Homo sapiens: one gene and its partners. The protein of the gene in region 1 purifies or fractionates together with the protein of each later gene. This does not show direct contact. Each region holds a gene or a part of one and is shown on either strand. Other genes may lie near its edges.

The links.
Region 2: the proteins of PRKAG3 (region 1) and PFDN1 purify together in Homo sapiens (affinity purification with mass spectrometry; 4 studies listed by BioGRID and IntAct, with this or other methods). This does not show direct contact.
Region 3: the proteins of PRKAG3 (region 1) and CLTCL1 purify together in Homo sapiens (affinity purification with mass spectrometry; 2 studies listed by BioGRID and IntAct, with this or other methods). This does not show direct contact.
Region 4: the proteins of PRKAG3 (region 1) and PIP4P2 purify together in Homo sapiens (affinity purification with mass spectrometry; 3 studies listed by BioGRID and IntAct, with this or other methods). This does not show direct contact.

What each region holds. Positions count from the first base shown.
Region 1 is NC_000002.12:218,828,778-218,835,696, forward strand, and holds the start of PRKAG3 (5'-AMP-activated protein kinase subunit gamma-3), read right to left. Parts: upstream 3,027-6,919; 5' UTR 2,994-3,026; coding exon 2,961-2,993; intron 2,599-2,960; coding exon 2,559-2,598; intron 2,125-2,558; coding exon 1,969-2,124; intron 1,605-1,968; coding exon 1,201-1,604; intron 1-1,200. UniProt on the Homo sapiens protein: AMP/ATP-binding subunit of AMP-activated protein kinase (AMPK), an energy sensor protein kinase that plays a key role in regulating cellular energy metabolism.
Region 2 is NC_000005.10:140,244,516-140,251,110, forward strand, and holds the end of PFDN1 (prefoldin subunit 1), read right to left. Parts: intron 1,543-6,595; coding exon 1,459-1,542; 3' UTR 520-1,458; downstream 1-519. UniProt on the Homo sapiens protein: Binds specifically to cytosolic chaperonin (c-CPN) and transfers target proteins to it. Binds to nascent polypeptide chain and promotes folding in an environment in which there are many competing pathways for nonnative proteins.
Region 3 is NC_000022.11:19,281,692-19,288,719, forward strand, and holds part of CLTCL1 (clathrin heavy chain 2), read right to left. Parts: intron 1-7,028. UniProt on the Homo sapiens protein: Clathrin is the major protein of the polyhedral coat of coated pits and vesicles. Two different adapter protein complexes link the clathrin lattice either to the plasma membrane or to the trans-Golgi network.
Region 4 is NC_000008.11:91,030,850-91,037,877, forward strand, and holds part of PIP4P2 (type 2 phosphatidylinositol 4,5-bisphosphate 4-phosphatase), read right to left. Parts: intron 1-7,028. UniProt on the Homo sapiens protein: Catalyzes the hydrolysis of phosphatidylinositol-4,5-bisphosphate (PtdIns-4,5-P2) to phosphatidylinositol-4-phosphate (PtdIns-4-P).

The DNA of each region.
Region 1 (6,919 bases):
ACAGTACACGCTAGACATGATCGTTGCTGGGGACATGTACATAGATAAGGCTGTGGCCTGAGACCATGAGCCCCTCACCTGGCACACCAGGGAGTGAGAAATTCTAAGTTCATGTTTCCATTTGGAGGGTATGTGTGTACAGACACAGTCTAGTTTTTGATAGACTAAGTACCGGAGGCATAGTTATTTACATAACACTTGCATATTTACATACTTTTTTTGTAGATAAATTTTATATTGACTCATTTTGTGCCCCGTCCTAAGCAGTACTATCTGCACATGCTGGTTATATTTTTTTAACACAGCCTAAAACAAATATAAAGCTACTGAAATAGACATATTTTTTCACGAACCATTAGAATCAAAATGCATGCTATGGACAATACATACACCGTGTTTTGGGAAACACTGCACTGCATAACAATGATAAGAATAAGATTATAGACATTTATAGCTAAGCCTAATGGAAGAGCAGGTGCCAGAGCTCATTATTTTTTCTGTTACCAAGAGAGTCCCCTACTCTTTTTTCTAAGTCACTCTGTGATGCCTTTTTTTTTTTTTGACATGGAATTTCGCACTGTCTCCCGGGCTGGAGTGCAGTGGCACGATCTCGGCTCACTGCAACCTCTGCCTCCTGGGTTCAAGTGATTCGCCTACCTCAGCCTCCAAAGTAGCTGGGATTACAGGCGCCCACCACCACGGCCGGCTAATTTTTTGTATTTTTTTTTTTAGTAGAGATGGGGTTTCACCATGTTGGTCAGGCCGGTCTCGAACTCCTGACCTTGTGATTTGCCCACCTCGACCTCCTAAAGTGCTGGGATTACAGACATGAGCCACCGTGCCCGGCCTCTGCAATGTCTTACACATACTTTGTTCACGCTTTATACTGGGTAGTCCAAGAATCCTCTGAACTATGTAGGGTGCAGCAGGCATTTCGATCCCCATTTTAGAGACAAGAAAGGTAATGTAACTCAAGGTCCTACAGCTACTAAGTGGCAGAGCTGTGATGACAATTACGTGTGCTAACAGAGAGTAGAAGCTGTCCCTCCCCCAACTGGCCTCCATAGTGCTAAGAAGGAGTCCTTTCAGGGGGCTTGCAGGGGCACCTGGCTCAGCAGGGCATCCTGCAGGGTGGGAGTGGCGGCTGCAGCACCGTGTGGATGGAGAGTGAGTACAGGTTGGGCAGAGCCGTGGCCTCACCTCCAGCATGGTGTCGAAGATGACTAGCTTGGAGCTAGTTGCCATGGCATCGTAGCAGGTGTGCTCCTGCATGAAGCGCATGTAGATCTGGGCGCCGGGTTTCCGCAGTTCGTCATCCCAGCCCAGCTTGGGAAATGGGGCCTGCGGGGACAGGCACAGGGCAGGCCTCTCTTCCAGCAGGCCTTCTAGCTCACACTCCCAGGCCTCTGTGGCTGGGAACTCCGTGGCCAGCTCCACATCATCTGTGCTGGAGCCTGCAGCTGAGGCTGTACAGTCAGAGGGGAGGCAGTCCCACCCTGTTGGTGGAGTGCCCACCCCGGCAGGATCAGCTTGAGCCAAGGGTGTGGTCTTGGGGAATGTGGCCTCCAGCCCGGTGGACTCAGCAGCTGGCCTGGACCGGGGACCTGTTTGGGGGAGGAGGGGAAGAGGACAGTAACTCCATCTTCCAAAGCACGTTCTCATCTGCTGTCGCCATTCATCTCACAGCAGCAGTGGGAAGCCTGGATGCTGTGGCCCTATTTGCAGGTGAGGGGCTGACCTGAGAGTCGCCCCAGGTAGTGGCTCTGTCCCATCTTTCTGAGTTGGCCATGCTGGCCTCTGGCACTGCAGTGCCTTGTTCTCTACTATGTAGGGAGACTGAGGCCACAAGATGAAGGTTGGGTCCAACTCTGTGTTATGGAGGGACCTGAGGTAGAGACCAGACCCAGGCTCCTCTGGGATTTCCCACTCCCCTGGCTCCCACCTCCCCAGAACTGGCCTTGGCCTCACCTTCCCCCTGACCTGGTGGCTCCCCTTCCTCCACCGACTTCTGCCTTGTCCATCTCAAGGCTTTGGCCCTCCGTTTCCCACGGATTCTTTCTGAGCTGCTGGTCACAGCTGGTGATGGCCATGAGCTGCTGTTTTCTTGCTCTAGGAAGCTCATCTCTGGAAGGGGAATGGGGCCTGTTTGGTTAATAGGGAGTAATGCATCAAAATCAATTCAAATGTTATTCATAATCTTTAGGATTTGCAAGCTTCCAATGGGCTTTTCTCCAACATATTTCTCATTTAAAACTTACAGCAGCCTTATAAAGCAGGCATTATTATCATCCCTATTTTGCTAGTGAGGGACCAGAAATTCAGAGAGGTTAAGCAATTTGCTGCAAATCACACAGCAAGTAAGTGGGAAAGTCACTTCTGAAAAGAGGAAATTGGAGGTGAGGGAAACACACCTGGGGAAAGGAGGAAGAACAATGAGGAAGAAAGACCAAAAGGAGGAAGATAAAAGCCAGGCTGGGAGGGAATTGGGGTCCCAGAAAAGTGGGGGACAAGGAGGTGGGGGAAGAGGTTAGGCCCCAGGGAGGGGGCATTCTCCCTACCTTGATGCTCAGAACCCCCAAGGCTGCTCCAGGAAGGGGTCTGTGGGGAGAAGAGTTTCTGAAGGAGTGGGGAAAGTGCCTTACATTCCCAAACCCCTTCTCCCTGAACACACGCCTACACACCCATGCACACCAATACACACGCTCAGACACACGCCATACACAGACATGCAGCCATACACAAACACACACAGAAACACACACATCCAAACACTCCCAGGCACACAGAACCACACACACTCACAATACATATGCCCAAACATGCACATGCCCATATTCACGAGAAAATCCAGACCAAACACACACCAGAAGACACACACGCCCACACACACATTCACAGCCCGTGCGCTCAATCTTCTGGCCTCAGCTGCCCCGGCTCCGGCTCCCCTGGGACCCCCATACCCTGCGCAGTGCGTGCTCCAGCCCGGGCTCCATGTGGCCAGCCCCAGACCAACTGAGAGCAAGTGTGCGACACTGTGGCTGGGCTGCACTATTCTGGGCCCGGCCCCGGGCACCCTGCCCTGCCAGGATCGGTTTCTCTCTGATTGGGTGTCAGGCAATGAGAGGGAGGGGCCCCCATTTGCTCAGCTGCTACAGCCCTGAAGGCTGGGGGTTGCTGGGAGGGAAGGGGCGCACCGGATAATCTGGGTACTTGGTCCTCAGCTGCCTCCTGGGTCACTGAGGACAAGCTAGAGGGACCCTTTTTGAGGGGATGTGGCTTGGAGCATGTGGGAACATGGTCATTGAGCAGAGTTGGGCTCTCAGAGTCCTGAGCCCCTATTCCAAGAGCCTCCCTCATCTTTATCAGGCACCAAAGAAGGGAACATGGAGGCAGATCAGCATAACTTTCTTCCTTGTTCTAATTTCAGTAGAGGGTGGTGCTGGAGTTAGAAAGGGCAAGTTGCAGCCAGCTCAGAGGCTGGAGATGAGGCAAGGGGTTTGTGGGTAGTCCAGGAGAGCAGCTAGTGTATGTCCAGATGTCCAGATTTGAGTCCCTGGAGTGTGTCCCTCTCTCAGGTGAAGGAGATGGAGTGGGTGTTTCAGGCAGGTGAAGAGCTGTGAGAATCACCTCGAAGGCGTGGGGAGCACTCAGAGCTCCCCGCAGGGGAAGAGACATCTGTTTCCACCTGTGGTTGGGAGATATGCCTGGGTGTGCAGGTGTCCCAGCCCCCAACCCTCTGTGAGTGCTGTGCCTACATCCCTGGTGCCAACAGGATCCCAGCCTGGCTCCAGTAGCTGCCACCCTCTTCCTTGGCATTCCCGGAGCCTGAGTCAATGTCCGGATTGGGAATGCTGACCCAGCTGCTCCGGCTTTCCTCTCTCTGCCCCTCCCTTTCTCTCCTCCTTCCAGCCTCTTCCATCCCAGCCCTGGCCCTGGAGTGGACACTCAACAACAGACTGGTGAATTTCTGTCTGAGTTTATTACATGTGTTTTCCATCAACCCTCAATGTTCCTACTCTGCCAATGGGGAGGGTGGAGGAGAATGGAGTTGGGAGGACAGCCTTGGCCAGGGCTGTTCCTGTGGTCCCCAGCCTTTCTCAAGGACATCTGCTCACTGGACAGTGGGAACTGGCTCAGAGGACAGAGATCAGTGTAAGAGAATTTCCTTCACACCAAGCATGTTTTTTCAAATGGACTCAAGATAGCCACCACCAGTTTGAGAGAAAGGAGAGTAGGAAGAACACCAAGTCCAGAGTGTTCAAGCATAAAAATAAGGTCTACATGAGGCCATTGGCTGTGGTTACTCAAACATGGAGCCACTCAGAAGGCTTCTAAGATTGTGAGGGTGTTGTATTGGCAAAGAAACCATAAGCCTGATCAGCAAAGCCTGGTTTGACACCCCTTCCCTTGCCTTATTCCCAGCCCTCCAAATCCGCACCAGCAGGAAGAGGGCTGTGAAGGCTGGAAGGACTGCAGAAAGCACAAGTTTGCCAGTGTGGGACAAAGGATATTGGATAAACAACAGCTTCCCAGCAGGAAAAGCCAGAGGCTACATAGGAGAGTGGAAAGGGGAGATCTTCCCAGAGAGCAGAACCAGGGGTGGTCAAATGTGCTGACCAAGAACTTACTCCACTGCCAGGAAAGGGCTTAGCCATTCCTGCCCAACCAGATTTGATAATTAAGATCCAGCAGCTGCTGGGTGTTTGCCATTCTTTCAGTTGCAAGTGGATTTTTTTTTTTGAGACAGTGTCTCACTATGTTGTCCACGCTAGTCTCAAACTCCTGGGCTCAATGATCCTCCTATCTCAGTAGCTGGGACTATAGGCGCGTAGCAGTGTGCTCAGCATGAGTCAGTGTTTTAATTGAGCTTACCCTCTTCTTCCTCCACTGTTGTCTGTGGGGAGTAGGAGGTGCAAATCACCTGCCTGTTAGTTTTTAGGTCACCAGACCATAGGGTGTCCATCTACCTGGAAGAAGGAACTGCCCACCCCTCAGATAGCCTGGACTCTCAGCTGGGTGCCGTACTCAGATGGAACTCTGACTTGCCTCCTTTTGAAGGGCAGTAACTGTGTTTTTTGTGTGGGATGGCCAGATGGGTGAGCTCTAGTAGAGCAATATCTCTTCTACCCTTCTTCTGCTGTTAGTAAACCACTACAATTTTAACTGAATGCAAGATTATATTTCACAGCTTCTTTTGCAGATAGTATGGCCATATGACTAAGTTTGACCATGAAATTTGAGCAGCAATGTTATATACATATATATTATATGATAGAAGGGTACCCCTAGGAGGAAAGGGAACCCTTTCTTACTGGCTAGAATTACAATACGATGATGGGAGCCGGAGCAGCAAACTGAACCCAACGATGGAAAATGCAGTTTGAAAATGATAGAACATCCCCCACCCCTGTCCTGGTCTGCCTACCTCTGGATTGTTATGTTAGAGATAAATAAATTTCTGTCTTGTTTAAACGATCGACAAATTGAACCTTTGTTATAGCAGCCAAGCCTCTCTCTAACTAATACATCTACGTTGCAGGATTGAGGTAGGATTAGGAATTACATATGTAGATAATGACCCTGCATGTTCGTGCAGTGCTTAGTGTCTACTACACACTGTGCAAAACACATTATATGCCATGTCCTGTGTAATCCCTTGCAACCCTGTGAGGGAAATACTTTGACTATTACAATTTTACAGATGACAAAACCAAGGCATAAATAGATTAAGTAACTTGATCAAAATCTCAAAGCTAGTGGGATGGAGCCAAGAATCAAACCCAGACTCAGGCACCACATTTATAACCACTAAGCTTTATGGAAGACACAGACCTGCCCCCTCTATACCTCCAACCATGAGGCTTTGAAGGCAGGCAGGCAGGCAGGCAGGCACGGGAGGGCTCTGACCCTTCAGTAGCCATCTCCTGCTGCTGTCAAGGTTGGGGTGGAGGAGGACTCCAGCTGGGGGTACACACCAGCACTGCTCAACACTAAAAGCATAGCAACTTCACAGTTTTCAAGAAGAGCTCTGCCTTGCCCCTTCTCTCACCCTACACCTGCCTTTCGCCTCTCAGATCTCCACCCTGCTCTGACCACAAGCCTGCCTCCACTCATCGTCTGGCAGGGCAAATCAGCAGGAGGTACTGGCTTCAGTTGGGTAATAAATACTCCTCGGGTGATTGATTTTAGCCTCTGGCCATGGCATCATATTTCTGGAAACCCTACTTCTTGGCTCACTCGCAGACTGGGTATATAATAAGGACCCTGCACCCTGACCCTAGGGTGAATTTGGCTGCTATCTCTGGAGATCTGATTTGTCTCGGACATGGGGTTGGGGAACCTGTTTAAGTGTTATTTTTATATCAGGAGGAGGAAAAACAGCTTGAGGAGGCCAAGAGAGTAGCCTGGATGAGACCCATTACTGAATAAATCACAAATAGGGTCCCCTAGGCCAGAGCAGTTGGGAGGCTGGGAGAGCAGCCTTCATATCCATCACAGGACACAACTGCTCTGTCCTGTTTGTGTGTGGCTAGACGGAGCAGCATCTGTGCAAATGTCTGAAGGACCTGGAAAGAACCAGCACCTTGTTAATGCAATTTAGTCTGCGCCACAGGCCCCATTACTGAGTCTTTTTCTGTGAGCAATTGGGAATTGTAGTGGACAGTTGTTGCTTTTCTATACCCAGTATCCATTTACCCCATCTTTTGGCAAACTTCTGGGTTTTCCTTTAGGAAACCACATTCCCTCAATTCACCTGCAGCACATGATTTTCAGAAGGGCTCAACTGTGGGTTCCACGAAGTATTCCTCTGGTTCAGTTGTAGCCAATTAGCACTCCAAATGCCTCTGGCCACAGTGAAGTGGGCATTGACAGAATTAGTCCAATAGGGGTGAATCCTGGGACTTTTGCTGGAGTTAGA
Region 2 (6,595 bases), on another chromosome or scaffold:
GCCTCCCAAAATGCTGGGATTACAGGCGTGAGCCACCGCTCCTGGCTGAAGTTTTCCCTTCTGGATGTCCCCTCACCCCTCACCCCAGCTCGTCAGCCGTGCCACTCATCTCATATTTGGCCACAGGGTGGCGCCAGGCTGCCATAGCAGCAAGTCCGATTTTCCTCCATCAGCTGGCCCGCCCAGCCCAGCCAGCCCGAGAAGCCGCAGCTGACAGCTAGCTCCCTGCCGACTCTGCCTTCCCTCCGAAGCAGTGGACGTGCTGATAAATGTTTACCGGTGCTCTCTTTAAAAAAAAAAAAAAAGCCATGTTTTGTTGCATGTCCTGTGTCTTATTTCTGATGTCCTGTGTCTTATTTCTGTGGTGTACGTGTTCTCACCATGCCATGGCTGATTTCAAGTTACCAATGTGATGTCACTGACTGGAGCTGGGAAGGGCAGCACAGGACCTGACATCATGTGGGATTTCTACCACCCAGACACAACAGAGCCAACCTCACAGATCACAGTCAGTGCACAGATAGAGCACAGATCGTGGTCAAATGTAGTAATTAGGGATGCATTTTGAATATTTATTGTCCTTGTTTTTAACATAATTTGCAAATTTACATAATTATAATGGCTGTGTTTGACAACTGGCTTGCAACAAAATTCTTGAAAATTGAATAATTGGCCCACCTGGGCTGGGATGAGCCAGCTGGATCACACCGTTGCCCCCTCAGCCTCTAGGAGGCCTCAGGATTATGGCGTCCATCTTATGATATTGGCCAAAAGGAGACAGTCTTGGAGGTGCTGCTTACTGTTGAACTTCCTTTTGGAATGTATGGGAGAAGGCAGGGAAAGGAATCTTTAGGCAGACTGCCATCCAGGGACTGCTATTCTGTTCACTGAGATTCAGCTGTGAACATCTGTTCTTTCTTCCTCTTCTGTCTACTGCATGCAGGCCCGGAAGCTGAGCGTTAGTCAAAGGTACAGGAAGGGAAAAGAGAAGAGGGCAAGGCCCATCCCCCAAGAAAGGAAGGGCTCTGATGCAGAGGGAGCAGGAGCTGAGGTGGAGACGGCCACTGCCTCTCTCACCCTCTGTTCCATCCCTCTGCTCAAGAAAACCAGGCTTAGCAGAGTGGGACAGACGCTTTTTATTGGTCTGGCTGGCGTGCCTAGTGGAAAGCTCAGGCAGAGCTTCCTATCTTGCCCTGGCTCCCATCTTCCCTCTCCTGGGAGTTCATCACACATCCCGAGAGGGAAGAGTGTCCTGGGCAGAGGTGGCAGGCAAAGCCGGGTAAAAACTCCAGGGCTGGGAAGCAAATGGGGCTCAGGGTGATGCAGAAAATGTGATGTTGCCAGGCCATCCAAATAAAGCATCCATCGGGGCAGAGGAGAAGCTGTTTCCCTGCAGACACTCCTCTGCCCCCACCAGGAATGGGAGGGGCAGGAGGAAGAGCTTCCCAGAGAGGCTCCCTACTGGGCCCTTCGTGCCATCAGCATCTCCCGGATGTTGTCCTCAGCTTCCTTAACGCTTCGCTCCAGGTAGGACTTTTTCTGCTGCAATATGAGAGACAGACAAAGGTTAGGACCAGAGTGAATGGGCCGGGCTGGAAGACACAGCTTTGATGTCCAATGGTTATGGCTTTTCCTTTGTGACAGGCAACTTTCAGGAGTATACTGCAAGCCAGGTACACACACCTGCCCACAGTGCTCCCCTCACCTCCGAACCATGGGTGATCACGGGCAGGCAGCAGGGAGAAGATGGCTTTGGTAGAAGCAAAAGTGCTCTGTGGAGGACAGGCAGTAGCACTCTTCCCCCAGAAGGAAGAAGACTCTAAAAAACAGGCGTCTCAGTACATGAAGTTATCCCAGACAGACAAAGGCCAGGAAATTCCAGGACAAAGCTCCTGTCCGTAACAGACTATCTCCTCTCAAGGTTTTCCATGGCCTGGGCCAGGCGTCTGTAGCCACTGCAGCTATAAAATGGATGGTGCACGCTCTGCCCTGTCCAGCAGGAATATGGGCTGCTGTGAGGGCTGTGGGGCTGTCTCGCATCGCACTGAGTGGGTGAGTCAGAAGGCAATCTGCTTTTCTAATGAGACTGCTGCCTGCCAGGAATCTGGGACACTAAAACACTGAGGAAAGCAGACCTTTTGGAGGCTTACCTTCTACTCCATCTGGGTCCTAAATTAAAAATCTCGGCTTAGACAAAGAACTTTCACTACTTTCAGGAGCCAAGATTTCAAAGATTAGTCAAAGGAAATGATGTCTGTACATTATTTGCCCTGTGCTCACCCCAGAAGTATGGTGGTTTTACCAGTGGTCCTTGCCCCGAGGACATAGTTGTGGCTGTATTCCCAGTTAACAGACATGAAATGAAGCCTCCGTTTTAGAGGAATACTATTCATGTCCTGAGGGAATACTCAAAATTATCACCTCCCAGGGCATATGTGACTGAGCCACACTGGAACCAGTAATACAGTCACCAGGCAGCCCAGGCCCTTCTCTCACCTCCACCCCCTTCACCCAAGCACCTGTTGATTCTGTTCCACCCATTAAAGTGCCCACAGGACTCAGGGAAGCAGGGAGAGTTTAGGGCAGAGGACAAGTGAGCTCTCTGTCCAATTAATTAGTTGTTTGTATGTTTTATTTATTTTTGAGACAAGGTCTCAGCTCAGAGTGCAATGGTGCAATCACGGTTCACTGTAGCCTCTACCTCCCACCTCAGCCCAAGTAGCTGGGACTCTAGGTGCACTGGGACTATAGATGTGTACCACCATGCCCGGCTAATTTTTTTTTTTTTTTTGTAGAAATGAGAAACTTCAATTTTTTATTTTTTGTATTGCCCAGGCTGATCTCAAACTCCTGGACCCAAGCGATCCTCCCTCCTCGGTCTCCCAAAGTGCTGGCATTACAGGCGTGAGCCACCGCGCTTAGCTATTTATTAAATGATACATATAGAGGCTTTTTCCTACAGAAGCCAAATGTGGCATACACAAATCTTTATCAGTTCTTCCGTGAACCTCTGATTCCTGTCTGTCCTCTCCTTGCTTCAAATTTCCTTAAGGCTAGAAAGAACCCTCTTTACTCATCTCCCATCTGTCCTAAGTTGCAGAGAATTCCTTGGAACACAACAGGAGCTCCATAAAAACTCATGGCCAGACACAGTGGCTCATGCCTATAATCCCAACACTTTGGGAGGCCAAGGCGGGCAGATCACCTGAGGCCAGGAGTTTAAGACCAGCCTGGCCAACATGGCAAAACCCTGTCTCTACAAAAAAATTAGACAGGTGTGGTGGGGGCACCTGTAATCCCAGCTACTTAGGGGCTGAGGCAGGAGAATCACTTGAACCCAGGAGGCGGAGGCTGCAGTGAGCCAAGGCCATGCCATCGCACTCCAGCCTGGGCAACAAGAGCAAAACTCCAACTCATGGTGACCATGATAACCATTCAATCCAATGCCTGCAAATGCATACTGCTGCTAAGGAATTTTAATTACATTGCTAAACCAAATACAGTCCTATCACTGTGATATCAGAGTGGGAATTTAAACTTCCTTTGATAAACAACTCTTTTTTTTTTTTTTGAGACGGAATCTCGCACTGTTGCCCAGGCTGGAGTGCAATGGCGCCATCTCGGCTCACTGCAACCTCCGCCTCCCGGGTTCACACGATTCTCCCGCCTCAGCCTCCCAAGTAGTTGGGATTACAGGCACACACCACCACGCTGGCTAATTTTTTCTATTTTTAGTAGAGATGGGGTTTCACTGTGTTAGCCAAGCTGGTCTCAAACTCCTGACCTCGTGATCTGCCCGCCTCGGCCTCCCAAAGTGTTGGGATTACAGGGGTGAGCCACCGTGCCAGGCCGATAAACAACTCTTAGACTTTAACTGTGGTGAGCTGAAAAAAGGCAAATACTAGTAAGCCCTGACACACACTAAAGAATGTATGTCCACTGGGTGTCACAAAGAGGGGAGCAATAGCTCGGTGCCATACACCACCTGGGCACCCTGTGGACCCCATGTGAATGCAGGGGAAAGGCGAATGGAATAAGCCCACTTCTCCTCCTACAAAAGTCCGCCAGGGCCCAGGGACTCTGGTCTGTTGCATTCAATCTCTGCCAACTTGCTGCCACAGCTGGCAAAACCATCAACTTGGAACATCAGCAAGAGCTCTTCTGCCCTCCCACCCAGACTCCCCAGCCAAACTCAGGCTATACCTCTCAGCTTTAAAAATTCCTTCTTCTGTAAAATCTCTGCTTTCTAACACTTTGATGAATTTTACCACTGCATATCCTAAAGTCTTCAGGTTTCCAAACAATGATGCAAATTAACATATCTATCTATATTTTTGTTTTGTTTCTAGAAATGGGGTCTTGTTATATTGCCCAGGCTGGCCTCAAACTCCTGGGCTCCAGCAATCCTCTTGCCTTAGAGGCATGTGCCACGATACTGCCTTCATCTTTAAATTTTTAATTAGTTTAAATAAACGTAGTAGACATTTCTTAAAAGAAAAAATTCCAACAGGACAGGACATCCCTAACATAGTGGACCTTTCTAACTGTATTTCAATAATTCCTGTCTCAGTCCCCAAGCATATTTAAGCCCAGAAGACTCTCATCATAATCAAACCCAGAACAAGGCACCTGTTGTGGGTTGAACTGAATTTGACAAAAAGATATGCTGAAGTTCTAATCTCTGGTAATTTGGAAAGAGGATCTTTGCAGATGTAACTAAGTTAAGATGAGATCATATTATATTAGGGTGGGCCCTGAATCCAATCATTAGTGTCCAAACAAGATGCTGTGAAGACCAATTCGTGGTAGCTTCAAATACAAGTAGAAAACCAAGTAGAAAACCAACACAATACCTGAAATGAGGGATGCCCCCAGACACCAATTCTACCACAATTATTTGGGGATAAGTATGATCCTAGCTTATAAAGTTTTAAGGGCAGTTACCCAGGCCTCTGCAATTCAGTATGGTCAGAGGCGTGGCAGGATTGGTCCTGTGAGTGCAGAAGAACCTTGGGAGGCCTCTGTCTCCACGGGTGTCTTAGTCTGTTTGTGTTGCTCTAAAGGAATACCTGAGGCTGGGTAATTTATGAAGAAAAGAGGTTTGTTTGGCCCACAGGTCTGCAGGCTATACAAGCATGGTGCAGCATCTGCTTCTGGAGAGGGTTTCTGGCTGCTTGCATTCGTGGTGGAAGGCGAAGGGGAGCCACCTGTACAGAAATCATGTGGCCAGAGAGGAAATGAGAGAGGAGGTGCCAGGCTCTTTTCAACAGCCAGTCAGTGAAGAAACAAAGCATGAGAACTCACTCCCATGAGAATGGTACCAAGCCATACACAAGAAACCCGCCCCCATAATCCAAACATCTCCCACCAGGCCCCACCTTCAACACTGGGGATCAAATTTTTTTGCGGGGGTTGGGGGGGTCTGGGGGTACCAAATTTCAACATGAGACCTGCCAGGGGGCAAAGAAACCCTATGCACACCACAGCAGGGGCATCCTTCATTTCCAGTGCGGTGCTGTGCTCTTGGGTAAGGGCACTAACCCCATTTAAAGGGCTCTGCCCTCATGACCTACTCATCTCCCAAATGGCCACACCTCCTAACACCATCATCTCAGGAGTTAGGATTTCAACAAAGACTTTAGGGAGAAACAACTATTCACACCACAGTACTTTTCAACTTCCAAGAAGCCATGCATGCATGGTCTTGGTTTCAGCTAAATCTCCGACCTCACCTCCAACAACTCTTCCCCGTCACTCCTTCAGCTCCAGTCACACAGGCCTCCCATGCTGCTCCTCCAATCCACCAGGTATGTTCCTGCCTGGCCTTTGCCCTTCGCTGTGCTCTCCATGTAGAAGTTCTCTTCCCCAGATATTCACATTACTCATCCCCTCACTTCCTTCAGGGCTTTCTCAAATGTTACCTTATCTGCGAGGCCTTCTTGAGTACATGCTGCCCAATACTCCCTATTCTCCTCACCTTGACTCTTCTCCAGAGCTCTTTCCACCACAGGAAGGAGAAACTGTCTGGCTTCCCTTATGAGACGGAAAGGTCCACAAGGGCAGGACTTTGTTCTGTCACCTGATACGGTCCTACCGTCTAGAAGAATGGCTGGCACATAATAGGAATTTAATGTTTGTTGAATAAAGTGCTTTAGTGTGGGAAATGACGCCTTACTGATGTACACACACTTTTTAGTTTTCCCTCCCAACTTGAATAATCAAGGAACGCCCAACAGAAGAAGCAAAGGCAGAAAATGACCATTTTCCTTCAAGGTGGTTTTCAGCTTTCGGCATTGCCCTCTCACCCCCTGCCCCTGGATATACACAGATTTAAAACTCCAACCTATCACTACAAACAATGTCAAGTATTTGAGGTAATGAATATGTTAACTAGCTTGATTTAATTATTCTACATTATATTCTTTTTATTTTTTTTTGAAACAGGGTCTTGCTCTGTTGCCTAAGGTAGAGTGCAATGGCATGATCTAGGCTCACTGCAAACTCTGCCTCCCAGGTTTAAGCAATTCTCCCATCTCAGCCTCCCGAGTAGCTGAGGATTACAGGTGAGTACCACCACACCCAGCTAATTTTTCTA
Region 3 (7,028 bases), on another chromosome or scaffold:
TTTTCTAAATTGTCCTTTTGTTCTCAGTTTGGGGATCGATGTTGGGTTAATACGGTGACATTCTGATTTCAACTCCAAATACCAAGAATTGGTAATCCTGAATAATTTGTATCCAATCTCTTGAGCATAGTGGGTTCTTAAATAATAGTAGCTGAGTCAAGTTCCTTATCTAAGAGCATACATACACATGTATGGCATTTGAAAAAGGTAAAAGTCCCTCACAAATAAGACAGTGTTTTAACAACTGAGAAGAGTGGATCCAAAAATAAGATAAAGACTATTAGAATCAGATTAAATTAAGACAGTAGTTCTCAACCAGGAGTGCTATTCTGCATTCTTCAGAAATGGGAAAGGGGCGGCCGGGCACGGTGGCTCACGCCTATAATCCTAGCACTTTGGGAGGTCGAGGTGGGCAGATCATAAGGTCAAGAGATGGAGACCATCCTGGCCAATATGGTGAAACCCCGTCTCTACTAAAAACACAAAAATTAGCCAGGCATGGTGGCGTGCACCTGTAGTCTCAGCTACTCGGGAGGCTGAGGCAGGAGAATTGCTTCAACCCAGGAGGCGGAGGCTGCAGTGAGCCAAGATCGCGCCACTGCACTCCAGCCTGGCGACAGAGCCAAGACTCCGTCTCAAAAAAAAAAAAAGAAATAGGCAATGGGTTCGGGCGCAGTGGGTCACGCTTGTAATCCCAGCACTTTGGGAGGCCAAGACGGGTGGATCACTTGAGATCAGGAGTTCAAGACCAGCCTGGCCAACATGGTGAAACCCCGTCTCCACTAAAAATACAAAAATTAGCTAGGCCTGGTGGCATGTGCCTGTAATCCCAGCTACTCAGGAGGCCGAGGCAGGAGAACCCAGGAGGTGGAGGCTGCAGCAAGCCAGGATCACTCCACTGCACTCCAGCCTGGGCGACAGAGCGAGACTCTGTCTCAAAAAAAAAAAAAGAAAAAGAAAAAGAAAAAAAGAAATGGGCAAGGGTAGTTTTAATAGTACAATGAGTGGGGAACTCATTCTCTACTCATTTAGCCAGGAATGCTCAATACAGGACAATCCCACAAAAATAACTTTTCCATCTAAGATGCCAGATACTACTGTGAGTTTTTCTCCATACGCAGGAACTAAGTCCCAGAAAAGTGATGTGCTGAAAAGCCAGGTTTTTTCTTTCTTTCTTTCCTTTTTTTTTTTTTTTTAGACAGAGTCTTACTCTGTCACCCAGGCTGGAGTGCAGTGGTGGCACCATCTCGGCTCATTGCAACCTCTGCCTCCCCAGTTCAAGTGATTCTCCAGCCTCAGCCTCCCAAGTAGCTGGGACTACAAGTGCCCACTACCACGCCTGGCTAATTTTCATATTTTCAGTAGAGACGGGGTTTCACCACATTGGCCAGACTGGTCTCAAACTCCTGACTTCAAGTGATCCACCCGCCTCGGCCTCCCAAAGTGCTGGGATTATAGGCGTGAGCCACAGGGCCTGGCCCAGGTTTGTTTTTTTTTTCACTAGTTAGTAGAAATAACCAAGGATTCCTGATCCCTAGTATATTATTCTGATAGGTAACCTAGCTACACATTTTTAAAAAAATTTTCTTTCTTTTTTTCTTTCTTTTGAGACAGAGTCTTGCTCTGTCGCCAAGGCTGGAGTGCAGTGGTGCAATCTTGGCTTACTGCAAAGTCTGCCTCCCACACTCAACCGATTCTCATGCCTCAGCCTCCCAAGTAGCTGGGAATACAGGTGTCCGCCACTGCACCTGGCTAATTTTTGTATTTTTAGTAGAGACAGGGTTTTGCCATGTTGGCCAGGCTGGTCTTGAACTCCTGGTCTCAAGTGATCCACTTTCCTCGGCCTCCCAAAGTGCTGAGATTACAGGCATGCACCACTGCACTGGACCTTAGCTACACATTTTAAATGGCATATATAAGATTTAACTAAAGAAAGGTAAAGAAGATGCTGTCTAATGATCCTTTTCAGTTCTCAAAGCCTGCAATTAAATCAATCAAAATTCAAATCTGACAATGGGGGCCAGACATGGTGGCTCATGCCTGTAATCCCAGCACTTTGGGAGGCCGAGGCGGGTAGATCACTGGAGGTCAGGAATTCGAGACCAGCCTGGTCAACATGGTGAAGCCCTGTCTCTAGTAAAAATAAAAAACTTAGCTGAGCATGGTGGCACACGCCTGTGGTCCCAGCTACTCAGGAGGCTGAGGAACAAGAATCGCTTGAAACCAGGAGGCAGAGGCTGGAATGAGCCAAGATTGTGCCACTGCACTCCAGCCTGGGTGACAGAGACAGACCCTGTCTCAAAAAAAAAAAAAAAAAAAAATCTGACACTGGGGAATATGCAAAAAGAAATTACTCATCTGATAGTCCTGTGGTTTCTATGTATAAGGGGCTTAAGGAAGATGTCTGCCTGGGAGGACTACAACTGTGTTTGTACAAGAGTATTAGTGAGAACATCAACTGCCTACATCAGTGAAGCCAGAATGCTTAAGTTGCACTGAACATCCCCATGTTTTCACACCTATGTGGACACCAATATTTTTTCTTTCTGTATCTGTCTCCTTCCCAGTCTCACTCACTGCTTTATCCTTGTGCCTAGCATATGGATGGTAAACAAATAGTAAAACAAATTACTTGTTTCAGGGCAGTAAAATTTAGTTCATCTACAGTTTTTAAAACATACTTTGAGGGCCTGGCGTGGCTGCTCACGCCTGTAATACCAGCACTTTGGGAGGCCGAGGCGGGTGGATCACCTGAGGTCAGGAGTTGGAGACCAGCCTGGCCAACATAATGAAACCCCATCTCTATAAAAATACAAAAATCAGCTGGGTGTGGTGGCGGGCACCTATAATCCCAGCTACCTGGGAGGCTGAAACAGGAGAATCACTTGAACACGGGAAGCGGAGGCTGCAGTGAGCCAAGACCACGCCATTGCATTCCAGCCTGGGCAACAAGAGTGAAACTCTGTTTCAAAAAAATAAATGGGCTGGGTGCAGTGGCTCACACCTGTAATCCCAGCACTTTGGGAGGCTGAGGTGGGCGGATCACGAGGTCAAGAGATTAAGACCATCCTGGCCAACATGGTGAAACCCCATCTCTACTAAAAATACAAAAATTAGCCAGGCATGGTGGCACGCACCTGTAGTCCGAGCTACTCAGGAGGCTGAAGCCAGGAGAATCGCTTGAACCGGGGAGGCAGAGGCTGCAGTGAGCTGAGATCATGCCACTGCACTCCAGCCTGGTGGACAGAGCGAGACTCTGTCTCAAGAAAATAAAATAAAAAACACATTTTATATTTGAAACACGCTGGGCGCGGTGGCTCACGCCTGTAATCCCAGCACTTTGGGAGGCCGAGGCAGGCGGATCACAAGGTCAGGAGATCGAGACCATCCTTGCTAACACGGTGAAACCCTGTCTCTACTAAAAATATAAAAAATTAGCTGGACGTGGTGGTGGGTGCCTGTAGTCCCAGCTACTCGGGAGGCTGAGGCAGGAGAATGGCGTGAACCCTGGAGGCAGAGGTTGCAGTGAGCCGAGATTGTGCCACTGCACTCCAGCCTGGGCAACAGAACAAGACTCCATCTTAAAAAAAAGAAAAAGAAAAAGAAAAAGAAACTTACCAAAGAGCCTTTCCTAGCCTAAAGAGGGAGCTCTGTAAATGAGGGCCTATGAAGAATGTTGACACTAAGGTCTCTTCCAGAACTTACATTCCAGGAGTAGGTTAGTTCAGGGATAGTTAACTACATTTATATAATGCTTTACAGAACTTCTCTCAAATTACACTATTACAGGTTTTCTTTATTTTAACACCAGTGCACAAGACTCTATATTTATCCCAGTTAAATGTCAACTAGCTGGATTCTGGCCTGTCAAGATATATCCGATTCTAATTTCATCACTGAACTTTGCTATCCCAGCTTTGTGGCATCCTTCTTCAGCCTGCCAAGAGTGATGGTCATCTCTCTGGCATGGAGGCCAGCAGCAGGCCTCAAGAGAAGTGGAAGAAAATGTGGGAGAAGAGCCTGCAAACTCAGTAAAGTCTCAGTGAAGAAGCAAAGGAAGGAAAAATCAGACAGATTGCAGAAAGATTCCCCCTTAGAGAAGGGGGTGACAGGGTGCCAGCAACTACTACCCTAGGGAATACTGATAAACAACATGTCAGATAGATGCAGTGATCTGTCTGTGATCCTATGGGAGGATCTTCAGTGTGTTAAGTTACAAAAGCAAAGGGCAGAAGCATATTTAAAGCAGGATTCTTTTGAACATTTTTGGAAGGATATGGTGGCTTCGTTTATAGTGGTTTCCCCTGGGGAGAGACAGACAGAGGCTGAACTGAAAGATTTTAATTCCCATCAGACTAGCCCCTGCAACAGAAATATCTCAGCAGAGAGGAACCTTGACTCAGATCCTCCTAGGACTTAATTCTTTCAACCCAACCAACTAAAAAAGCACTGGTTTGTGTAGCTTAGGCATTCTGAACATTTAAATGTTCTATGGTGAAGATCTGTTTTTCCAAAGAGTCCCCATTCAAATTCATTTACTCTTTGGTCACCCACAATGCCACAGCGGTAGGTACTCCCACAAGGCTCACCCTCGCAGACACCCTGGCTGAGGCAGGTTACTCTCCTTGCTTTGTAAATAAACAAGTCAGAAGGCAACTAACTGGCCAGTATGTATTTCCAATACCAGAAGCAGTGGTAGGCCAACAGGCAAAATTTAACAGTTTACATGGTATCTTAAAATGACATTTTACATGGGATGCAATAATTTTAGGATGCAATGAGCCAACTGCTGTCTTAGTACATCAAAAACCACTTCACAAAATGAGATAGCTACATAATGGCAACATAAACCAAATATGGACTGGATTACTATGGGTACGTGTCCCTTTTTGGAGCATGACCCCCAGAAGCCTCTCCAGACACACACGGGTGTGTGTGGATGGGAACTGTTTTCAGTTCAAGCTCAATCTACACCTTCACAGTTTTACTTTCCCCCCTCTTTCCTTAATGATTAATATTGACTAACATGTAGAAGGCTGTTTCACCTGGGCTGTGTGTAAGACTCACCTGGGAAGGAATACCAAAGCTCCATCTCCACCACTCAGAGCTTTGGATTTAACATCCAGCAGAAATATGTTTAAGGCTGCAGGCCATTCTCACATGCAGCCTAGGTAGAGAAGCACTGATTAAGATCTTGACCATCTTTCTCCTACAATTCTAATGCTCAAGGTCTCTACACCTGTTTCAAACACCGCCTCAGAGACACTTTGAGGGAACATGTTTACGTTTTCTGTGTATTGAGCTATGACACATTTCACAGCTTACAAACTTGGAGCTGCTTTTTTGATATAGCTGGGGGGAATTACTTAGGGCTCAAGAAAATTTTTATGTCACCAAACTATTCAGCCATTCCTCTTCTGAATCAAGATGTCTTAAGTGCTCAGCCCATCCTCAGATATTACAAACAGCAATACCCTTCCAACTCTCACATTTGAATATTTCTAAAAAGTTCAAATGGTAGCTCCCTGAGCTCACAATCCAGCAGAGAAAATGAACAGCTACAGTACCCTGGGAAGAGTGTCATTATAAGAGGAACCCCAAAGAGGCACAGAGGAAGAACTCCTAACTGACAAATCAGGGAGAGCTTCCAGAGACAGCGTCATTTCCACAGATACCAGAAGGCTCAGTAGGAGTCAGTGAGTAAAGAGGGGTGAGAGGAGAATGTGTTTTGGCAAGGACACAAAGGGAGCGGCAGCAGAGTTGAGCAGGTGTTGGGCTGGGAAGAACAGGAAAGAGCACGTGGGGATCAGTCTTTTCATGCCAGAGGAAACACGAAACCACTCCCTGAAGGACTTTAAGCAGATGCTCATCCTTGGAGATCATGTTGCCTGTGTGCTGGAGAATGGATCACAGGAGGGCAAGACTAGAAGTAGAAGGACAAAGCTAGCATGACCATCAAGGTGGGGAGGGATGGCATAGTTTAGGGAAACGGTAGTCATGATGACAGTGGCAGAACGATGCCAAAAGTAAACAGGAGAAAGGGACAACAGGATGGGGAAAACACATCCCAGGCTCCTGGCTGGACACTGGACAAGATACACATCTGGGGAGAAAGGGAACCCCATTTATGAACACTGTGTTTGAGGAACCTGCTGACCATTTCCTGGCCTTCTTCAGTAGGCAGCTGTCACAATGGCAGCAACAGCTCACAAGGACACAGTGCTTTACAGTAGTCCCTTCTTATCCGTGGTTTTTTTCACACTGTTACCTATAGTCTGAAAATATTAAATGTAAGACCCCAGAAATAAACAATTCATAAGTTTTAAATTGCATACCATTCTGCAGAGTGATGAAATCTTGCACCAGCCCACCCAGGACGTGAATTATCCCTCCTCTGCCCAGCATATCCACGCTGTAGACATTGCCAGCCCATTAGTCACTTAGTAGCGGTCAGTTACCAGGTTGACTGTTGCAGCATCACAGAGTTTGTGTTCAAGTAACCCTTAATTTACTTAATAATGGCCCCAAAGTCCAACAGTAGTGATGCTGGCATATTGTTATTATTGTTCTGTTTTATTATTAGTTATCATTGTTAATCTCTTACTGTGCTTAACATAAATTCAGCTTTATCATACATATGTATGCATAGGGAAAAAAAGTGTATAAAGGGTTCAGAACAATCTGCAGTTTCAGGCATCCTCTGGGGGTCTTAGAACATATTCCCCATGGGTAAATCGGGACTACTGTATTATGTAACAGTTATTGTTTAATGCTTTACATTTATTAACTCAAAAACCTCACAACTACCTTGTGAGATAAGAAGTATACCTTTTATCCTTATTTTATAGATGAAGATATAGAAGCACAAAAAAGCTACAAACATTGCCCTAAATCACACAGCCAGTAAGTGCCTGAGTCCACATTCAGTGCCTTCAGTTTGGCCTCAGTCTGTGCTCTTAACCAGGACCTGCTACTGCCTCACACACACACAGCAGTGAAACTGCGAAAACACTCGGATGGCTTGGGAA
Region 4 (7,028 bases), on another chromosome or scaffold:
ATTTCTTTTCCAGCATCATGTTGTTTCATTCTATGGATATGACATGGCTTATTATGGTGGTTTTACAAAAAAGCCACAACTTCTTTGGCACTGCTCCCATTGAGAGGTAAGGTCTTGAATCTGGGTATTTGTAACTGCTTTGACAAATAGAGGATGGCAGAAATGACATTATATTTGACTTTTGAAGCTGGGTCATAAAAGACCACATGGCTTCCACTTAGGTCATCTTGTATTCAGGCATGTCTGATAGTTTTAATAATGACCTATGTCCTCATTAAGGGATGGTAGCAAATCCAAATACGACTTTTGCTGAGCCTGGCAAGGTATTTTATATAGAGAACTAGAACATGACAACCAAATTCTATAAACTTGGAAAATGCTTTTGTTACAAAACTTTAAAATAACTTTATATTAGTTTGTAAAATCCATACAGCTAATAGAAATCAATGTTTATTTGGATATGTCCAATGGTCTAAAAGGTGTCTGAAAATCTCACTTTAAGTCTACTCACTATCATTTCTCTATATTGTTTCTCCTCTGGATTGTCAGTCTTAGCACTTAATCTCTCAAACAATAAAATGTCATATTGTAACATGCCGTCTTCCAAATTCTCCCCCTGTGGAAATCACATGTTAAAAATGTCAAAAAATTCGGGGCTTTCTTGTACACTGTTTTAAAATCCTTACTACAGATTGACCAAGCCTAAATATCTCAATATGAGAGGAAGAAAAATTTTGCCATTGCCTTTAGAAGTAAATGCTTAGAATAAAATGCCCTAATCAATCATGCAGCACACACATGCAAATATATTCTACAGAGAAATAAAACAGTGCATGCTAGTTGGGCTTCTAATTTTTACAAGAGTCATGTAACATCCTTAATCTTCAATATATTATCTTTCTCATTTCTAAAAGCATACTGGAAGGAATAGCTATTTAGGTGAAAGAGGGACATTGGAAGTAAAAGAGTGAGATAAGAAAGGATAACAAGCATCTACATTTTAAATTTATAGATATATTTTCCTAAGTGTGTCCAGCTTCCTAAGAACAACTGTGTCATAAAATATAAAAGCCAAAGGTAAATTTATAGATATATTTTCCTAAGTGTGTCCAGCTTCCTAAGAACAACTGTGTCATAAAATATAAAAGCCAAAGGAAACATAATGCACCACTCCTTGGATAAATGTGGGAAACTGAGGCCCTGAGATGTAAAGTAACGATTCCAAGGCCAAACAGGTAGTAACTGGCGGAGATAAAAAGCCTCAGGTCTCCCAAGCCAAACACTACCTGGTGGCAGACCTTCTCTGGACTCTAAAGGGAGTTAGTTACACAATACTTGCACAATGCACCTGAAGTCCAGAAAAAGGAACCATGCTTTTTGCTTTTTTCACATTTGGTTGTTGTGGTTTTTACAGAAGAAAAGGAACTCACTTTACAACAGCAACTGGAAAAGAAAAAATCTAGAAAAGTTCAAAAGCAACATAAACTCCTTTGCACACCCCCATTACCACCAAAAATTTTTCTAAAAAAGCATAGAAACCCTCATAAAATAACAGAAACAGCAGGAAGAATGTATTCCTTTTCAGGAGCTACTATGGAATGCCATTCCCAATTTATTGAATACCTCTTACTCATTAAAAATGAAGCACAGGCCAGGCGCGGTGGCTCATGCCTGTAATCCAAGCACTTTGGGAGGCCAAGGTGGGTGGATCATTTGAGGTCAGGAGCTCGAGACCAGCCTGGCCAACATGGTGAAACCCCACCTCTCCTAAAAATACAAAAATTAGTCAAGTGTGGTGGCAGGCACCTGCAGTCTCATCTACTTGGGAGGCTGAGGAAGGAGAATTGCTTGAACCTAGGAGGTAGGGGTTGCAGTGAGCCGAGATCATGCCACTGCACTCCAGCCTGGGCAACAGAGTGAGAGTCTGTCTCAAAAAAAAAAAAAAAAAAAAAGAAAGAAACACAAAACACCTGAGCACAAGGTGTATTCAGGGTTACCTGCTTTTCCCAAATGGAAGTATTACAGTTTCCATTTAGATCACTTCCCAGATAGCTGTTTATTGCCCTCAAAGATAGTTATGAACATCCCTCCTGTTAACTTTCTTCTCCAATATCTATATCCATCTAGCTAACATTTGTATGCATTTGGCAAACCTTCCAAAATTTTAACAGAATGCTCTACCCTACAAGTTTTACATTCTTGAAGAGTCTGCATAGTCCTTGGAAACAAACAGGAAATTGAGAGCATCGTCTCCCTCTCCAGGAAAATGCTACTGTACATTTAATAAATAATTGTTGAATGAAATTTGCTCTCCAACCCCAAGTTTTCTCAGACCTCAGATTTGTACAACAAACTGCCTAATTCACATTTCTAATTGAATAACTAAAGGTATTGCAAACTCCACATGACTGAAACAGAATAGTGACTTCCACTGTTCTTCTCCCACCTCCCAAACACATGGCCAACTCTTCCTCCTGTTTGCCTATCTCAGATATAACCTTGTACCTACTTAGTTGGGTCATTTTTGGAGATTTGTGATTCCTTTCTTTTCACTGACTCAACCCATCAGCAAGTCCTGTTTAAAATACATCCTGACACCAACCACACCTCAGTGCTTCTGTCACCTGTACCCTGGTCCCCTGTTGCCTCTTCTGCTCTAACAGCATCCTGATTAGTGTCATGTCTCATTAGTCTGTTCTCCTCCACATGCCAACCAAGGGTGATTTTTTTAAAAAGTAAAGTGTTTTCATGTCTCTCCTTTGCTCCAACCTCTCCATAGCTTCTCATTATCCTCAGGACATAATCCCTTCTTCAGCAGGTGGAATAGAAATCTCCCCTGGGCTTCCCTCATTTACACCTCGCACCTCCTCTACCTCTTCTGCTGTCCTCTAAGTCACCATGCTCTAACCCACTGTCCCTTGTTTTTGTTTATTTATTTATTTATTTTTGAGACAGAGTCTCACTCTGTTGCGCAGGCTGGAGTACAATGGCACAATCGCAGCTCACTGCAGCCTCAAGCTCCTGGGCTCAAGAGATCCTCCAGCATCAGGCTCATGAGTAGCTGGGACTACAGGCATGAGCCGCAGTGCCCAGCCTCCTCCTTGTTTTTAAAATAGCAAGTGTTATACTTGCTGTTCCCGTTGCCTGGAGCACTCTTTCAGTAAATCTTCCAAAGGCTGATCCAACTCATGTTTCAGGTCTCTCGGTGATTGCTATCTCTGAGTTGTCTTTCCTGGACGCTCATCTCAAACATTTGCCATCCAAACAGTTACTCTCCACCCTCACAGGTTGCTTTATTTTCTTCACCCTCTGAAATTATAACGCTTACTGTATGTATCTCTCACAGGAATGTAAGCTCTCCAGCATCTGGAATACTGTAATAGGCATTCAAATATTTGAAAGGATGACTGAATGAAACATTTCTTAATATTTTAAAGATGCTCAGTATAGACAGAAGGAAATGTGGGCATTATAAAACAGAATATAAGAATCCTGGAGCCTGATGCCTACAGAATAATGACAAAAAGACTACAACAGCAAATGAGCTCACCACCATACTGGAAAGCTAGAAGCCGATCTATTTCACCAATGTGTGGGCTCTATTTTTCCTTGAAGAGGATGTGGCCTCAGTGAAGCAAATTTTGATTCAAGAACCATTTTGAAAAAAATTCCCTTAAATGGAGCATTAGCATTAGCATAGCACAATAGGCTTCTCATATTTGCCAAGGCCCTGCTTGCTCAGTATCACAGCAGGTGAACACTCTACTGGGGCTTGGGGGAGCTTCAGGAAGCTGCTCTCAAATATCCTGCATCCTTTTCTCCTCATTGTGACAATCTGGCTTCCAGTGGGTTTCCGAATCCTTGGCAAGTAAAGTGAGAATTTAATCTAGTCTTACAATGGGTTGTGCATGTGGTAAGAGTCCCTGGATCTGTGTCATCTCTTCCTGCCAATCCACAGACAACCTTATACTCTGCAAGTACGCAGGGAGACTCAGCAATTTAAAAGACTGCCAAAATGTATTCAATCTCTTTAATTCAGTAAAAGTCTAGCCTAGTGTAGAACATAGTTAAAAATGAACTAAGACCTTACCTAACTTTAAACTAAGACACTATCTCTAACCTTAGATTTCTCCAGGTATAGGACATGAGAGTCACTAAAAATAAACCTATTTACTGTAGGATTTCTAAGAAAGCATAAGAGTACATATTAAATGATATGTCTCAAAACCAGGAGTCAATTTATTTTATTTTTCTACTCACTGAAAACATTTTCTCAAGCAATTTCAAGATTACATGTTTTTTAAAGGTGAAAAGGATATGGCAATGTCTTCTAAAACACAATTATGACAATTACGCTTCATAGAAAACCTAAATGAGCTTCAGAGTAAAGGAATATTAACCTTTTCATTTATGTTAAGCTGCTTTGAGGTCAGTTTACAATTAAAATAAAGGTACATTGGAATATTACATTAGATGGAAATAGATAATTCTTCAATTCTTTAAAAAGAGCTTGAATATAAACAAATATAAACAACTGTCACTAAAGTCCCTAATGATCTCCATGACACTAACTTCAAAAGACATTTTTGGTCCTTACCATCTTTGCTCTTTCTTAAACTTTTGCATGAAGACTCCTTTCTTGAAGTATTTTCTTGCTCTTGACTCTGTGATATTATCATCTCCTGGTTTTTGTCACCTTGCCGGCAGCTACATTCACCTTCCTCTCCCTAGTCATTAAATGTGAAGGTTTTTCAAAGCTTTGTCCAGGCTTTCTCCTTTTCTTAGATTACTCTTTCTCCCTAGGTTATCTCATATGGAGCGCCTCAAAGTTTTTCACACTGTGGTACACAGAGAAAATGACAATATGTGTATGACATCTTAGAACTGGAGGTCGCTGGGCCTGGTGTGGTGGCTCATGCCTGTAATCCTGGCACTTTGGGAGGCCAAGGCAGGCAAATTGCTTGAGCCCAGGAGTTTGACACCAGCCTGGGCAAGCTGGTGAAACCTCATCTCTATAAAAAATACAACAAAATTAGACGAGTGTGGTGGCTACTCAGGAGACTGAGGTGGGAGGATTAGTTGGGCCTGAGAGGTCAAGACTGCAGTGAGCTATGAGTATACCACTGCACTCCGGCCTGAGCAACAGAGTAAGAACCTGTCTCAAGAAAAAAAAAACAAAACCAAAAAAACTGGAGGCCTCTGGCCTGAAGGCTTTAATCACTACCTTAGCACATGTATGTTCCATCACAGCACATCTTATGGTAGGGCCCTGGGAAGTTCTGAATCAACATCCATGTATTTAGCTATCACCAATATGCAAATAACACACAATTTTATATATTCAGCCCAGGCCCCGTTTCTTAGTCCTAAGAAACGAGGACTAAGAAGAGATATGACAACCGGATCTACACTACAGGTCCCATTTTGCCAGAAATGGGATCTGTAGATCCAATTGTCACATCTCTTCTTGGATATTTGAAAGCATCTGAAATACATCATGTCTAAAACTAAGTTCATTATCCGTGTTCCCCAAAACTCGGTCCTCTTCTGGTGTTCTCCGTCTTCTGGTGTTCTGGTAATCACACCATGACGTTGCATAGCCAGAATTCTAGGAGATACCCTTGACACTTCTCCCTCACTTCCATGTGCAATCCATCATCAAGCCCTGTTCAATCCACCTCCTTAACATCATCCTTCATCTCTCCATCTCTACCACCACCTGAGTCCAAGCTACTGAAATAGTTCAGTTAAATTGCCCGAATTATTACAATAATCAAGGAAGTCATCTATTCTTGTCTACTCTAGCCAATCCTCTAATTCATTCTCTAATCTATAGAGTGGTTTAAAAACTAATAATAAAGATTTAATCCAGTCATCCCTTTGCTTATGGCAATATTCCTTAACATGACCAACAATATCCTGGATGGGCTGATTCATATTCATTATTCTGGTCATCTGTTGCTGCAGAACAAGTTGGCCACATGTGGTTGTAGTAAGAATTTGGCTAAGGCTGGAGTCATGTGAAGGCTCAATTGAGCTTGGCATCCAAGATGGCATCTCCCTTCACATGTCTGAGGGCTGGTCAGGCATCTTTCTCTCTACCAGGCTAGTTTCAGGTTCCATAAAGCATGGCAGTCTCAGAGTGTTCCACTTCTTACATGACAAGTTACTTTCCCCAGAGTGTACTTTACAAAAGACCAAGATAAAAGCTGTAAAACCTCTTCTGACCTACCCTCCAAAGTCATTCAGCATATTTTCTACCTTATTCTAGAGGTCAAAATCAAGTCATGGCATCAGCCCAGATTCAAGGGGAGGAAACTGAATATCAGAAGACATAGTTCTTTGAAGGGGAAAGAGAGTCTTCGGAGAATATCCACCATACCTATCTCTCCAGTCCCATTTTGCAGTGCATTTCCTACTGCTGTTTCCATTTTAGCCACGTTGGCCTTCCTTAAGTTCCTTGTATTTGTCATACTCCACCCTGCTGATCACTTTGCCAATACTGCTTTCTTTGCCTATAATGGTCTTCCAGTCCACCTTTTGCCAAGTTAACTCTTGCTCAACTTTCAGATCTCATTCAAGCATCAAGAAAGCCTTCCCCGACTCCCTCAACAAAATTAAATCTTAATTTATACTCTCAAGGTATTGCATATATTTCCAGCACTGTCTTCATCACCATTGCATTTTGCATCTGTTTGTGTGATTACATAATTTATTTCTCAATACCCCCACTACACTGGAAGAGGAGCCATGACTATTTTTCTTCTCCTACCACAGATTTGGCTGGTACTCAAATATTTATTTGCTGAATAATAAACTAAGTAAATCAAACTGTCTGCCTCTGTATAACAAATTATTATTTTCCCTTTATGAATTATAGTGAAGTATATAATCCCATTTCCATATTGAATACATAATGAGACAACCCCAGATATAAACAATTTTCACAGAAAAAATCTTATAAATTCAAAGGTCATATTCTTTTGTTATATCCTAACTACAAAATTAGCAGATGTATAAAGGAATCA